2 linked regions of the Homo sapiens genome follow. The protein of the gene in region 1 interacts with the protein of each later gene in a pairwise test. Each region holds a gene or a part of one and is shown in the gene's direction. Other genes may lie near its edges.

The links. Proteins that work in one complex are often made in the same cells at the same time.
Region 2: the proteins of VANGL1 (region 1) and PTPN3 interact in binary tests that used the Homo sapiens proteins (3 or more experiments, as listed by UniProt).

Annotation. Positions count from the first base shown.
Region 1 is NC_000001.11:115,679,958-115,686,975, forward strand, and holds part of VANGL1 (vang-like protein 1), read left to right. Parts: intron 1-2,406; coding exon 2,407-2,540; intron 2,541-3,986; coding exon 3,987-4,119; intron 4,120-5,335; coding exon 5,336-5,570; intron 5,571-7,018.
Region 2 is NC_000009.12:109,495,291-109,503,097, reverse strand, and holds the start of PTPN3 (tyrosine-protein phosphatase non-receptor type 3), read left to right. Parts: upstream 1-4,790; 5' UTR 4,791-4,879; intron 4,880-5,161; exon of another isoform or gene 5,162-5,435; intron 5,436-7,807.

The DNA of each region.
Region 1 (7,018 bases):
GGAGCTGAGCTAGGCACACACCAGGGAGTGTGTGTGTGTGTGTGTGTGTGTGTGTGTGTGTGTGTATGTGAGAGAGAGAGAGAGAGAGATCAGGGAGAGGGTTGCAATGAATCTCTGGATGGGGTAGGAATAAAGAAACACTTGCCCCTCTCTGGAGAATGCCATGGACAGGGGGCAAGGACGGAGTTGGAGCCACATTGACTTGGAGATTGCCAGGTGAGACCTTCAGGGCAAGCAGACTAGACTTCTGCAGGAAGAGCTCTCGTGACACACAAACCTCCACGGAAGTCCGCCTCCTCAGGAAGGCTGCACCCTGTCCCAGGCAGCCAGAAGCTCTTCTCCGTGGTTACTCAGCCCCACGTGTTCCAGCATGAGAACATACTCACTGTCATGGGGTTCATGCTCCAGGTACCAGCTAAGGTCTATCTTCATATTCCCAGGGCTTAGCAGACACAGGCACTCAAATATGGAATGACGAGTGAACAACTGAGTAACTGAATGGTCAGAATTTTCAAAATGCAGATTTGCTGTTAGGAGTCTTAGGTTTACTTCCATTATGCAAAGTTGGTCTCACCGGATTTCCCCTGATAGTGTTCCCCAGCCTCACATGACTGTACATTATCTAGGACGATATTAAGTACCAACTGAATGCGGGCACTGTTGGGGATATAACTCAGAAAGTTTTACCATGATTCTGCTCTTAAGCAGGTTAGCTGACTGACTTCCATATTCAATTCTGTTCAAGTCTTGAAGCAGAGCTCCAAGGGGAGCCAAATGGGTGGGTAGACAGAATTTCCAGTGGATAGTTTAGGAGCTCCCTTGTCTTGGTGTGAAGTGAGGATCCCTGAGCCACCTGGAGAGTGTTGGAACACAGTGTGGTCATCCAGGAATCAAAGGGAGCCCCATCCTGGTGCTCTGGCTACTGCAAATAATCCTTGTAAGCCGATCTGCTTAGCAGAGTACTAGAAAGGAAAATCCAAAGGGCAAGATAAAAATATATCTGTGGTATTTAACATGGTGGTGGTTGGAGATGTCAGCACGTACGCTGTTACACAGAGTCCGCATGTTACCGGGAAGCCCAACTTGGAGGTTTGTAAATCATATCAGAGTTCCAGCTCTCCTGTTTATTAAATGCATACTGTTGTGCAGGTCATAGATTTTTGAGCCTCAGTTTTCTTACCTCGAATGATTGTGAGGGTTAAATGAGAATCAGGTATGTGCAAACCCTTGCTGTATCATTGCAAGGTGTTCTTCAAAGTGGCAAGTGTTCTGCACCATAGACCAAGGGCATATTCTTTTGCTGTCTATACTCATTTCCAATTATAAGTACCCTCCCACATCCTCTCTCCCACTTGTTGATGGTACCTGTTCTTTGTTCCCCTGCTGCTCTCTGAGGACCAAGCAGGGGATAGTTGGAGACCTAGAATATCGGAACATAGATAGTCACCTTCATACCCCTCTGCCAAAGGCCAGAGATAGCACTCCAAGGGGCAGGGGGACCCAGAAAGATCAAGTGGTCTCAGCGGAGGCTCTCTTTTTTTTGTTGTTTTTTTTGTTTTTTTTTTTGAGACTGAATTTCACTCTTGTTGCCCAGGCTGGAGTGCAGTGGTGCAGTCTCGGCTCACTGCAACCTCCGCCTCCTGGGTTCAAGTGATTCTCCCGTTTCAGCCTCCCGAGTAGCTGGGATTACAGGTGCATGCCACTACACCCCGGTAATTTTTGTATTTTTAGTAGAGACGGGGTTTCATCATATTGGTTAGGCTGGTCTCAAACTCCTGACCTCAGGTGATCTGCCCACCTCAGCCTCCCAAAGTGCTGGGATTACAGGCGTGAGCCACCGCGCGTGGCCAAGGCCCTCTTAAGTACGCTCTGCCCTGGATGGCTGCAGTTGTTCTGGTCTGTATAAAACCTAAGTTCCAGGATTCCTTATACCCAGGGATACCAAGGCCTAGGGGACAAAACCCTGAATGAGGACCTGAGAAACCTGAATCTATACTTTGTTCTTTCACTCATTAGCTCTGCAACCATTAGTAAGTCTCTTGCCCTTTTGGGGGCATCCTCAGTTTCTTCTTTTGTAAACCGAGGAAAAATAGAAAAAGTTCTTGTGTGCCTAAAGCTAAATGTAAGTTATGAGTTACAACTTCTTCCTCTTTCAACAAAGGGCTAGATGGGATGTGGCTAATCACAGGTCCAGGAGAGGGCACAGAAGTCACCTGGCCATGGGGCTTAGTTTCAGCTTTAAGTTCTCATCCTGGAGACCAGAAGTGTGGTGGAACCCAGTGGACTTCTGTATGAGATTATCTTTGATGTTGTGTTCCTTTACCTGACTCCAAAAGAGGATTTTTCGTTTAGGACCTGCTTCTTCAGTGAAAAAGCTTTGCATTAATTTTGTTCTTTTTTTCTCAGTATCCAGCGAGCAGCATTGGTGGTCCTAGAAAATTACTACAAAGATTTCACCATCTATAACCCAAACCTCCTAACAGCCTCCAAATTCCGAGCAGCCAAGCATATGGCCGGGCTGAAAGTCTACAATGTAGATGGTATGTGCCTTGAAAGGGTGTCCGTGGTGCTCACAGGGGCACAGTTGGGTGACTATTTAAGATTCATGGTACGTTTGGTTCGACTTCTTCTCTGGGCCTACCTTTATGGTACATTCTTGTTTCAGAACAATTTCTCTTTTTTATGTAGGCAGACACATGTTTAGAGGAATGTTGATTTACCATCTACCTGTGTTGGAAGCCTGTTCATTTTGGGATTTTATGATTGAAAACAGCAGCGGTGTGTGTTTCCTGCCTTCTGCCAGGATCATCTTATATTGGAAGCTGTTAGGAAAGGGTTGCTTTTCAAAATTGGTGCACATTACCCACAAACTCAGAAAGCTACCTAAATCATTAAGACTAGAAATCTCAGTAGTCCAGGCATCTGGTGAGATACCTGCGGGCACTTCTTACTCGTGGCTAGGAGCCGGAGTTGAGTGGGTGGCAGGAGGCTGGAGGCCAGGCTGGGTAAGTCCAAGCTATGTTTCAGGGTATCACATGGTTAAGTGCAAGAAACAGGATGCGGTGTCATTTCTTCCTGGGTATGTTGGGTGAGGGCAAGAACTTTGCAAACCCTAGGAGAGGATTATATTTTCAACAAGTCAAGTGATTTATATACAGTGTCAGTTTTTGTTGGCAATATCCTTTCAGTTATTTGTTTGTTCATTTTTTTTTGGCTATATGAGGTGTGAGCTCCCTCACGAAGCCTGAAGGATTGATAAATTTCACCTGTGATCTAAAAACTTAGGAAAGATTCCCACTAGTGAAACCAAGTCACCAGCCAAGTAGATCATCCGTAAGAAAGCCTGAAATCTGCCTATGTTTCTGAAAAGTTAAGGTGGTCAGTGGTCAGGGGACAGGACAGGACTTCTGAGTCTGTATTCATTAACGGGTCACGTTGCACACCCTCAAGCATTGGTATTTCCTAGAAAAGTTGTGGCTGCCATGACATTCTAGCATAGCTTGCTTTCCATTGTAGACTCAGTGTCTCATGTCCTTTGACTTTCTTTTTTGTCTGTCTGTCTGTCTGTCCTTGGTCTCCCCATCCCTCTCATTCTGTCTCATTGTCTTGCTGAAATTTGATGTCCCAGCCGCCCTTATGGCCAAACTGAAACTTTATGTAACAGATGGTAACATCTTCAGCACACTCTATGTGTTGTTTTTGGCCAACATTTTAATTGCCACCGTTCTTCATGCCCTTCTGAGTTCTTTTTCCATTTCCACTGACCAGATTGGGGTTTAGGGAGATTCCTCTGCTCCCTTGCTTTGGACATAGTGAATGTGGAGCCGGGGCACAGTTCACCCTCCTGGGAAGTGACCTTTAGGATTTGTGTGTGTGTGTTCCATAGGGGGTGGGTAGACAACACTGACAGATTGGGTACTAGTTTTCTGCTCTGTTTCCCACCCTCGTGGTATTAACACTATTCTTTCACTGTCCTTTCCCCAAAGGCCCCAGTAACAATGCCACTGGCCAGTCCCGGGCCATGATTGCTGCAGCTGCTCGGCGCAGGGACTCAAGCCACAACGAGTTGTATTATGAAGAGGCCGAACATGAACGGCGAGTAAAGAAGCGGAAAGCAAGGTATACTGCCCTCCTGATGCCAGTACCCTCTTACAGACTTTTAAATTTTTATTTTATTTATTTATTTATTTATTTATTTAGAGACAGAATCTCACTCTGTTGCCCAGGCTGGAGTGCAGTGGCAAGATCTTGGCTCACTGTCACCTCTGCCTCCCAGGTTCCAGTGATTCTCATGCCTCAGCCTCCCAAATAGCTGCGATCACAGGCGCCCACCACCACGCCCGGCTAATATTTGGTATTTTTAGTAGAGATGGGGTTTCGCTATGTTGGCCAGACTGGTCTCAAACTCCTGACCTCGAGTGATGTGCCTGTCTCAGCCTCCCAAAGTACTGTGATTACAGGCATGAGCCACCATGCCCGGCCTCTTGTAGACTTTCAATCTTTCCTTTCTTACCACTAGAATGAGGTTTCTGTTTAAAAACATGACCTGCTGGGACACCTTTGGAGTGCACCTTGCTCCAGTGTTTCTCAAACTGAAGCCTGTATGAATATCACTGGGAGGGCTGTTCAAATACAGGCAGCAGGTTCTGGGCCCTGCTTGCAGAGACCCTACCCAATAGGTGTGGAGTTGGGCCCAAGAAATGGCATTTCTAACAGATTCCTGCGTGATGCTGATGCTCCTGGCCCCCAGCCCATACTTGAGTGGGTCTGTTCTGCACCCCTGGACCCTTGCTGGTGTTCACCGTCAGGTCATATTCACTGAAGGGGACAGAGGTGCATTCCATCATGTGTGCTGTGCCTCTTCCTGTTTCCCAGGGGCTGCTGGTGTGGGTGGCTGGACCAGGGAGCACGCAGCTCTGCTTCTTTGTAGGGCTGCTTCTGCACCACCAGCCACCTCTCTCTGTACAGAGCCTTTTATAGCCAGTCGGAGGGGCCTCAGAACTCTTTTCATCTAACCATTGCAGAGATGAAAAAAGGACTAGTGCATTTCCCAAGCTCATTGGTGGCAGAATTCAGAACAGAGTTCATCTCCCAGTCCTGGGGCTCCTTTCCCCCAACCCCTGGGGCCCCTGTTCCACATGTTATTTTTGCTGTTGCCTTTCTTTCTCCCTTCCTCCCTCTCCACTCTCTGAGGGACAGCTAAGGATGCAAGCAGCGTGATTGGGCCTTGGGTATGTTGGCAGGTTGGGCCGCAGCAGGGTAGACAAGCGTCATTCTGTTCTCACACCCTGTGGCAGGCACCATCCTGATTACTTAGTGTTGCATCACCTTCTAGGCTGGTGGTTGCAGTGGAAGAGGCCTTCATCCACATTCAGCGTCTCCAGGCTGAGGAGCAGCAGAAAGCCCCAGGGGAGGTGATGGACCCTAGGGAGGCCGCCCAGGCCATTTTCCCCTCCATGGCCAGGGCTCTCCAGAAGTACCTGCGCATCACCCGGCAGCAGAACTACCACAGCATGGAGAGCATCCTGCAGCACCTGGCCTTCTGCATCACCAACGGCATGACCCCCAAGGTGCGCTGCTCCGGGCGGGCTCTGCCACCGTCATCCTGGCTTGTCACTGAGCTTGGCCAGTTGAATTATAGCGTGTTACTAGAAGTGATAAAATCGAAAGGCATCTCTAAAACTCAAGTAATAAGAATTAGTGATTCTCACTTATTTTATGTTATGTTAGTACAATTGTTTTTTTAAATGTGCCTTTCGAAGGCCTCTGGATTCTAACAGAGGAGAGAATTTCGCTTGGAGGACAGTATGGAATAGTGATTGGAGACAGTATGGAATAGTGATTAGGGGTGCATTGTGGACTCTGGAGCTGAACTGATTCATTCTAACCTGGCTCCTCCACCAACTAGATGCATAACCTTGGGCAGATGGCAATAGCTCTGTGCCTCAGTTTCCTAACCTGTTAATTGGTTAGGATAATACTAATAACTATCTCATTTGTATGTTTTGGGAACTGAAAGAGCAGGATACACATATAGTGCAACATATAAACAGAGGTCCTTATAAAAAACAGCTACCAAATGTTACACGTGTACCACATGCCAAGCTCATCTACTCTCTACCATGCGATTTACATGCCTTGTTGCCATATTCAATGTAATTCTTACACAACAACCCTGTCAGAGAGATATTATTATTATCCTCATTGATACAACAGCAAACAAGTGTAGAGGAACTGAAACAGTTAATTCATGTGAAGTGCTTGAAACAGTACCTGTCATATGATGAGGATGGACTAAATAGCTCTATTTATTGGTAAAAAATAGAATGGCGTGAACCCAGGAGGCAGAGCTTGCAGTGAGCCAAGATCGCACCACTGCACTCCAGCCTGGGCGACAGAGCGAGACTCCGTCCAAAAAAAAAAAAAAAAAAAATGCCATCAGGCATTTTGGGTGTTACAGAATTAGTTTTACTGAGTGGTCTTTTAGATTATGATATTTAGGACACTTTAAGAAGTGTTACAAGAAACAGCCATGTATCTAATAGAGAGTTGTGGCCAAGGAGGCAAACTAGAGTAAAGATACAGCAAATGACTTCTCTACAGAGAAGTGGGTTCAAATCCTGGCTCCACCACTTAATTGTTTTGTGACTGTGCACAAATTACTCTACCCTCTATTAGATATATGGCTGTTTCTTGTAATATCCCTAAAAGTGTGCTAAATACTGTAATCTAAAAGACCGTTTGGTAAAACTGACTCTGTAACACCCAAAATGCCTGACAAAGCCATAGCATTATTTTTACCAATAATAATAATAGCAATTTAGTCTGGCCTCTTCATATGACAGGTACTGTTTTAAGCACATCACGTGAATTAACTCTTTCAGTTCCTCTACACTTGTTTACTGTTGTATCAATGAGGATAATAATAATATCTCTCTGACAGGGTTGTTGTGTAAGAATTACATTGAATATGGCAACAAGGCATGTAAATCGCATGGTAGAGAGTAGATGAGCTTGG
Region 2 (7,807 bases), on another chromosome or scaffold:
TGCCAACTTTTGAATTTGTTTCATTTTTCCAGATTATGAAAGAAACATACATAAGATTTAGAGAACTATAAAGACATACAAAAAATAGACACCCAAAGACTTGAAATTCTCCTAATTTGTAAAAGATAACTTCTGTAGCCTGCCTCTCTGCACATAAATGCAATAGTCAGACACACCACCAATAATATTTTGGTGCAGTTTTTCTAGTTTTTGTTCTATGTGTATGCATTAAATTGAAATACAGGAAGTTACCGATGTTCAACCATTTTGACCCATAAAATGGCAATTTCATATTTATTTATTTGAGACAGAGTCTTGCTGTTGTCCAGGTTGGAGTGCAGTGGCACAACTAGGACTCACTGCAGCCTCAACCGCCCTGACTCAAGTGATCCTCCCACCTCAGTCTCCCAAGTAGCTGGGACCACACATGGGTGCCACCACATCCAGCTAATTTTTTTCTTATTTGTAGAGACAGGGTCTCACTACATTGCCCAGACTGGTCTCAAACTCCTGTCCTCAAGCAATCCTCCCACCTCAGCCTCGCACAGTGCAGGGATTACAGGTGGGAGCCACTGCACCCTGCCTGGCAATTTATAGTTCAACCTACTGAATTCCCACATACCATACCATGTGTATTTTACATCATATTCTTTTCATGTCATTCTAACAGCACCACTTGCCCATGTATTTATGGATTCTCGGGCTCTTCATAAGCTTGCATTAACAGCACAAATAATTGATGAGCATTAGCATCTCAGCTCAGAGCACTGCTTTGTAAATCACTGGAGCAGTACAAGTAGGGCAGACTTCCCAAGTCTTGATGCGAATGACAATCCTCAGTGATTCTTCCAGGAAACTCTTCCTATAAATTCCCTTAACCAATTGCCTGCATACAGTGCCTGGCACCTGATTTTCTGCCCCAATGGCAGCTTCTGGGAATGCTGCTAATAACTATGTTTAGATGTTCATCTCTTGTTCCTCTTTTACGAATCTGGTCCATTACCTGTGATGTATATTCAGTTTGTAGCGTATCTTACTCTCCAATAAAATGATGCTCTTTTGTTTTCTTTGTTGTTATTGTTTTTCACGGTTTCTGGATCTTTCAGCCAGGTACAGTCTACTGGCACTAAGAGAGAGAGGTGACTATATTTTTGAGCTTCGCAGGAGGAGGGCTGCTCTTACGGTCCTGGCTTTCTCTCAGCAAACATCATCAGGACTATCAGCTCTCTGTCATTTCATCACAGAAAAGTCCCTGAGGAGTCCATGGACCAGGTGGTTCCATCATGTTGTGATCCTGCCTCCAAAGTGAATGCCCAGAGACGATAATCTATGTGGGTCCTCTCTGGACCAGTCGATCTGGGACTGAGTACAGCTCTATTCCCAATTGGGCTTTAATTTGCTCTACACTTGGCTGAGTTCAACAATAGCCTAAGAAGATTATGTGCCCATTCAAAAGCCCCATTTACGTAAGGTTTGGGAGCTTATGATATAAGATCAACTGTCATTGGTAATAATAACCTTATGTCACTCCAGATGCAACAGCTTAAAAGGATAGACTTTAACATTTTGGCCCCAAGAATAAAACAGTAACAGGAGACTAGAACATTTAAAGGTAATCTGTAGCCTACAAACACATCAAAGGGTAGAGAAAATAAGGCAAAAAACCCTACAAAATTAGATGACATATAGCTTCTCTTATCATCAATACATGGTAATCTACTACACAGAGAGGCAGTGTGTCCTAAAACCTAACACCCTGACTTTGAGATCAGATTGACTTGTGTTCAAATCCTCACCCCCTTAACAGCTGTGAACAGCCCCTAGATTGTTTTCTCTTCTGTAAAACTGAGCTAAAACACCCACTCTGTAGAGTGATGGTAAGGATTAAAGAGAGAATATATATAAAATATTCATCGTACTTGAGCTTGATAATAGCAGTTACTGTAACTGGATATACACAAAACAAGAATTTTTAATTTGATCTTTTAAATGCTTATTATTGCAAACATGTCATTGTGACATTAATAAACTTTTAAAAAACACCCAAACTTACTACTCCAAAAAAATGACTAGTTAATTTTCCCATATTTCCTTCCAGTCTTGGTGAATGTGTCAACACCATGTTTATACAATCTATTTGTGTTTTTAGCTTTTTTTTTTTTTTTTATTTGAGACAGAATCTCGCTCTGTCATACAGGCTGAAGTACAAATGGTGCCATCACAACTCACTGCAGCCTTGACCTTCCTGGCTCAAGAGATCCTCCCACCTCAGCCTCCCATGTAGCTGAGGCCACAGGTGCATGCCACCACACCTGGATAAGTTTTTTTTTGTAAAGATGGGGTCTTGCTATGTTGCCCAGGCTGGTCCTGAACTCTTGGGCTTAAGCTACCTTCTCACCTGGATCTCCCAAAGTGCTGGGATTACAGGCATGAGCCACCTCACCCGACCTGTTTTCTGCGGTTTTTTTTTTTTTCATTTAACATTGTACCGTGTTTTCCCTGTTGCAACATGGTCTTTTTAACTTAGTGTAAGATAGTTATTATTTCAACTAATATACCATAACCTAATTAATCATCCCTCTGTTATTGAGTACTTAGTTTGTTTCCAATTTGGGGAGTATTCTTTCATTTTGTTCCTGCTTCTGTTATGGTGATTTAAAACGCATGATTTTTAAAATATTTAGGTCTTTCCTTTAGGTGTAAGCATGTTCCTAGCTCAAAGTTGAGGGCATCGTTTAAGCTAACAGCTGTTAGCTGTGGGAAAAGAAAAGGTAATTTCAGTCTAGGGGTCAGCAGATTAAGACAACTTCGAAAATTCACACATCCTCCGTTGACCTCGGTTTCCTCATCTCAGCAGTTGGCAAACTGGCATGAGGATGACGGCTGATTTTGGTAGGCACTCAAGAAATGGATCTTTAAGGTGGTCTAAACACGTTCACGTTCCTTATTTCACTCAACTTCCACTCGGGTGCCCAGATCGAAGCGTAGGTATTCACAATGGTTGAAGCACAGAGAGGATAAGGCAGTGGGGAAAGGACAGAGAATGCCTCCTGCTGAGCCCGGGGGCGCTGGGTGGAGCTCTGCGGGGGGCGTCGCCTGCCCCTCCAGGGGGCTCCTCCTTCCGGGGGCTCCGGCCCCGCCCGGCTCCGAGCATGCCCAGTGCGCTCCCCGCCCGTCCGAGTGGTGCTGAGCGGGCGCCGCGGCTCCAGGTTTTGCTGGCGACTCGAGGCCGGGCCGGGCCGGGCGGGGCGCGGGCGGTCCTGCCCCTGGACTCCGGGCTCCGTCGGAAATCCCCCCGACGCGATGCACGGGCGGCACCCGCTGCAGCGGCGCTATCCCGGGACGTGCGACTCCGGGACAAGGACCGAAATGAGGTTCCAGGGGCTGCCGAGGCCTCAGTCTATCCCTGGAACGACTGCCCCCAGGACCTGGCACCCAGGCCCGACTGGAGGGTTCCAACCATCTCTGCATCCCTTCGTTCACATATTCAACAAATAATGTTTGAGCGCCTAGTGTGTGCCAGACAGTGTTGCAGGGGGGTCACTGCAGTAAAGACAAGCAGAGCTACAGCCCCAAAGCTGACATTTAGGAGGGAAATACAACATGAGAATTAAACAAATCGGAGGAAAAGCCAAAGTGACCAACCTCATCTGCTCCTCTGCCTCCTTGCCGTTCCCTAAGCGGTCCGGCGCTCTTTTGGGTCTTGGCACTGGCTGTTCCCTCGGCCAGGAATGCTCTTCCCTGCTTATCTGCGTGGCTGAAATACCACTATCACCTTCTCAGTGTCACCCAATCAGACCGTCCATCAGCTCAAGGGCCCTATCCGACCGCTTCACTGAAAATTCACTGCTTACCTCCAGCCCCAAATCTCCTGACCCTGCTCTTTTTCCTCTTAGAACTTATCACTTTCTAATATAATGCATAGTTTGCTAATTTGCTGTTTATCTGTTACCTGTCCCTCTTTCCCCAAACTCCACTGGGGGACAGAATTTTTGTCTATTTGTTCCCCACGCGAGAAAAACCAGAATAGGTGCTCAATAAATATTTGCTGAAAATGGATAAATCACTGTTAAATGCTATGAAGAAAACAGAGTACACGGAGTGGTCAGGAGCAGAGGGCTAATCGAGGAAGGTGGTCAGGAAAGGCCTCTCTGAGGAGGGGACCTATGTACAATGAGAAGGCGCCGGCCACGTGAAAAGCTGGGCAAGAACGTCCCACAGAGGGAAAGGCGGGCGCCAATGTCCTGAGGTTAGTGAAGTTCGAGTGTTTGATGGACAGAAAGGCGCTCTAGGATCCGCAGGAAGGCAGGTGTGAGATGAGACGGAGGTGGGAAGCAGGAGCACAGATCAGGTAGGGGTCCCACGAGCCTTGGGGAGGTTTAACCAGGGAAGCTTACTAGTGCCAAGGGACGAGCACTGGACTGGAAGTCAGCGGGACCTCAGCTCAACCGCGCACCCGTCGTGCAAGACTCCTCATTTCAAAGTTTCTTTGGGCGCCGACTTCTTGCCTTCCCTAGGCATGAAATCACTGAGGGCCTGGCACACAGTAGGTGCCCAGTCATGGCTGTGGAACGAATGGCTGCATGCATGCGCGAGGGAACTCAGGACCTGCCCGGAGCTCGGCGGAGAGCCCCGGTGCCCCTAGGAGATGCGTCGGGGCGCGCCAGCCCGGGGCGGGGGCGGGAGAACACCGCAGGCCAGCCCGGACGCCCGCCCCCCGCCCGGCGCGCGGGCCCGTCGCGGCCAGCCCGGCCGGCGGGAACCGCCCGCGGGCGGCACTGGGCATGCTCAGACGGCGGCCAGGTCGCGCCGCGAGCGAGCTTCCGCGCCGCCCGCACGCGCGACCTACCTGGGCGCTCCGCGCCCCCGGATGCTGCAGGTACGGGCCCGTGCGACCCCAGCGGGCCGGGGGCAGGGTGCGGGGCTGCCGGGGGCCGGGGTCGCGCTCGGCGCCACCCCGCCCCCACCCGTCCCTGGGGCGCGCGGCGGACGCGCGGGCGGGCTGGCGGGTGCGGCTGCACCGGGATCCCCGCACCACGTCGGGGCGGGGAGGGGGCGCCCCGCTGCGCTCACCTGGCGGGGCCGGGGCGGGAGGGCGCGGGCGGGGCGCCGGGTGGGGCTCGGCCGGGGCGGGCTGGCGGCCGGGACGCGGCGCCGGAGCGTGGGCGTGCGCTCCAGCCGGGCAGGGGCGGGCGCAACCCGCGGAGCCCGTGCGTCCGGCACCTCCGGAGGACCCCGTGCCGCCGCGACCCCGGCTCGGGGCTCCGAGGGGGCACACAGCCCGCGGGGAGCTAGCCGAGAGCGGCTGCCAGCGCTCGGCTCCCAGGGCGAATCCGCCTCTCGGCTTTCAAAGATGGCATTTCCTGGGCCTGGCACGAAACTCCAGAGCCAATAAATCCTCCCCGTTCCGCGGACGATATGGAATGATTTATCAGGTACCTGCGGTGAGACAGCTGCAGATGGGGGAGTGTATGTGAGAGTGCCCAGCCCCCCCGAAATTCCCATTTTCAGCTACCTAAACTTACTGAGAAGTTGCGGTTGCCTTAAAAATTCATGGGAAGTTGAGACAACTTGACACCTGGGTTTTCCAAGCTGGTGGAAAGAGCTTGTGACTTGGAAACTGGAGACCTCCGTTCAAGTTGGGCTCCCCCTTGGCCAGCTGGTGACCTTGGCAAGTTGTTTAACCTCTCTGGTCCTCAGTTTCCTCCCTTGCAATCAGCTGGTAATAATGCCCACCTCGCTGGGTTGTTGAGTGGATTAAGTGGGATAAATTATGTGGAGGTGTTTGGCACCGTGCCCGGCACAAAGCTAGCAAGCAGTTGGCGTGATGTGAATTTAATTCGTTTAGAGACCCTCGTGGCTCTCATTTCAGGAGGAAATTAGAATTAGGAAACCATCTTCAGGGCCTAGTGGTGGAGTGACAGACCCTGTCTCTGTGCCCAGGAGAACTTCTGCCGAAGTCAAGGCCTTCGGAAAAACAATTTAGCCGAATTGTAATCAGAGAGCATCTCCTTTAAAAGCAGTTTTATACATTCAGAAACTCCAGAAGTTGGCAGTTGGCTTCACTTACAAAAGAGCTGTTTTGCAAGATGATCCATCTTGCAAATGTTTAAGCAGATGATGGGAGAAAGTAAAGCCTGCTTAGGAAGATTTCTGTTTTAAAAAGCTCCCAAATCCAACTTTAAGCGATTATTTAGATCAGGGTTTCTCAGCCTTGCACTATTGACATTTAGGGTTTGATAATTCTTTGTGTCCTGGGCATTGTAGGGTTTAGAAGCATCCCTGGTCTGTAGATTCCAGTAGCAATTCCTGTTCCCCAGTTGTTCCAATCAAAAATGCCTCCAGTATTGTCAGATGTCCCCTAGGGAGCAAAATGCCACCCCAGCACCCCTTTAGAACCACCAATTTAATTCTTGCTTTCTGTCATTAGCCCGAGTTGTTTGAGAATTTCATCTTGTGCTTTTGTAATAACTAACCTTTGCATAGCCTTATAGAACTTACAGAGTACATTCACCTGTATCGTCTTATTTAATCTTTACAACTCCCTTGTGAGACTGGTGTCACTCCCATTTTACAGATGAGGACATGGAGGCTCTGAGCAGCCAATTACACAGTATGTGGTAGAGCTGGGGTGTAACCCAAGTCTCCTGGTTCCAAGGGCAGGTCTTTTTCTTCTGCATCAAGCTGCCTGTCCCTTTGTTGTATGGAGGCTTTGATATGGATGACTTTCCGGATGATTAAATCAAGATGTGAAGTATATTGGAAGTTGGAAACTTTTCTGAGATTGACTAGTTGAAAATTAACAACAGTAAGCTATTATCTGACAGAGTAGGCCATTCTAGTTAAATATTCTAGTTTATAGCGAGCTCCCATAAATCCCACATGCAGTTAATGGAATACCAATTTGCAGAGAATTAGAGTAGAATAGAACGTGCCTAATACTCTGTATTGATCCTGCGTTTTCTCTGGTGATTTGCCATCTCCTAAAAAGGACTCATATATGCAAATTAGACATTAGCTGGGGAATATAAAAGGTCAAGTTACTGAAGGCATTTCAGAGTAGCTGAGGCATTTATTGAACTTCTGTATGGCAGATGTAGTGCTGAGTGGGGATGTGGGGTGCACCCCAGAGAATCCAGGTTGCCTGCATCCACTTCCGTGCAGGAAAGGGCAGGCCCTGGTCAGGCCAGACAGGTGGTGGGCCCTCAGACAGCTTGGAGCAGGAGAAAAAGCCCAAGTTACCATGGAAGCAGATTCAGGATCCCTTACCATATCATCAGTCATGTCTCTGACCCCTCGATTCATCTTTTATCATACAGAAGATACTCTGGTAGTTTTAAGCATTCTCATTCAAGTCTCAGAGACCTGGTTAGGGAGGCAAGGTCAGAGACAAATCTTATCCCTGGAAAAAGCTGGGGTTCCGAGGTGGTAATTGGCTTCAGAGAATTGAGAGCAACGCTTTGTTGGCTGTGAACTGGAAGGTTTCACACACAGTGGGGTTTGTTGCTGCCAAACCCCACCCCATTCCCCACCTTGCAGATAAGGAAACTGAGCTGGCAAAGGTAGAGTGGGGCCAGGAGCAAGAGGGACCAATTTTGACCTTCTGAACTACAGGTCCAGGCACACAAGAGACATTTTCTAGGACAGGCATAACCTACCAGAAGGGCTCAGCTTTGGGGATGGGAGGGAGTGAGAAGACATGGCACCCTGCCTTTCCCCAACCCTCCGGGTTTGTGGTGGTTGAGAAAAGACCAGCAATTTGTGGTCCCTACATCTTTTCCCAGGAGAGCTCACCTTCCAGCATTGC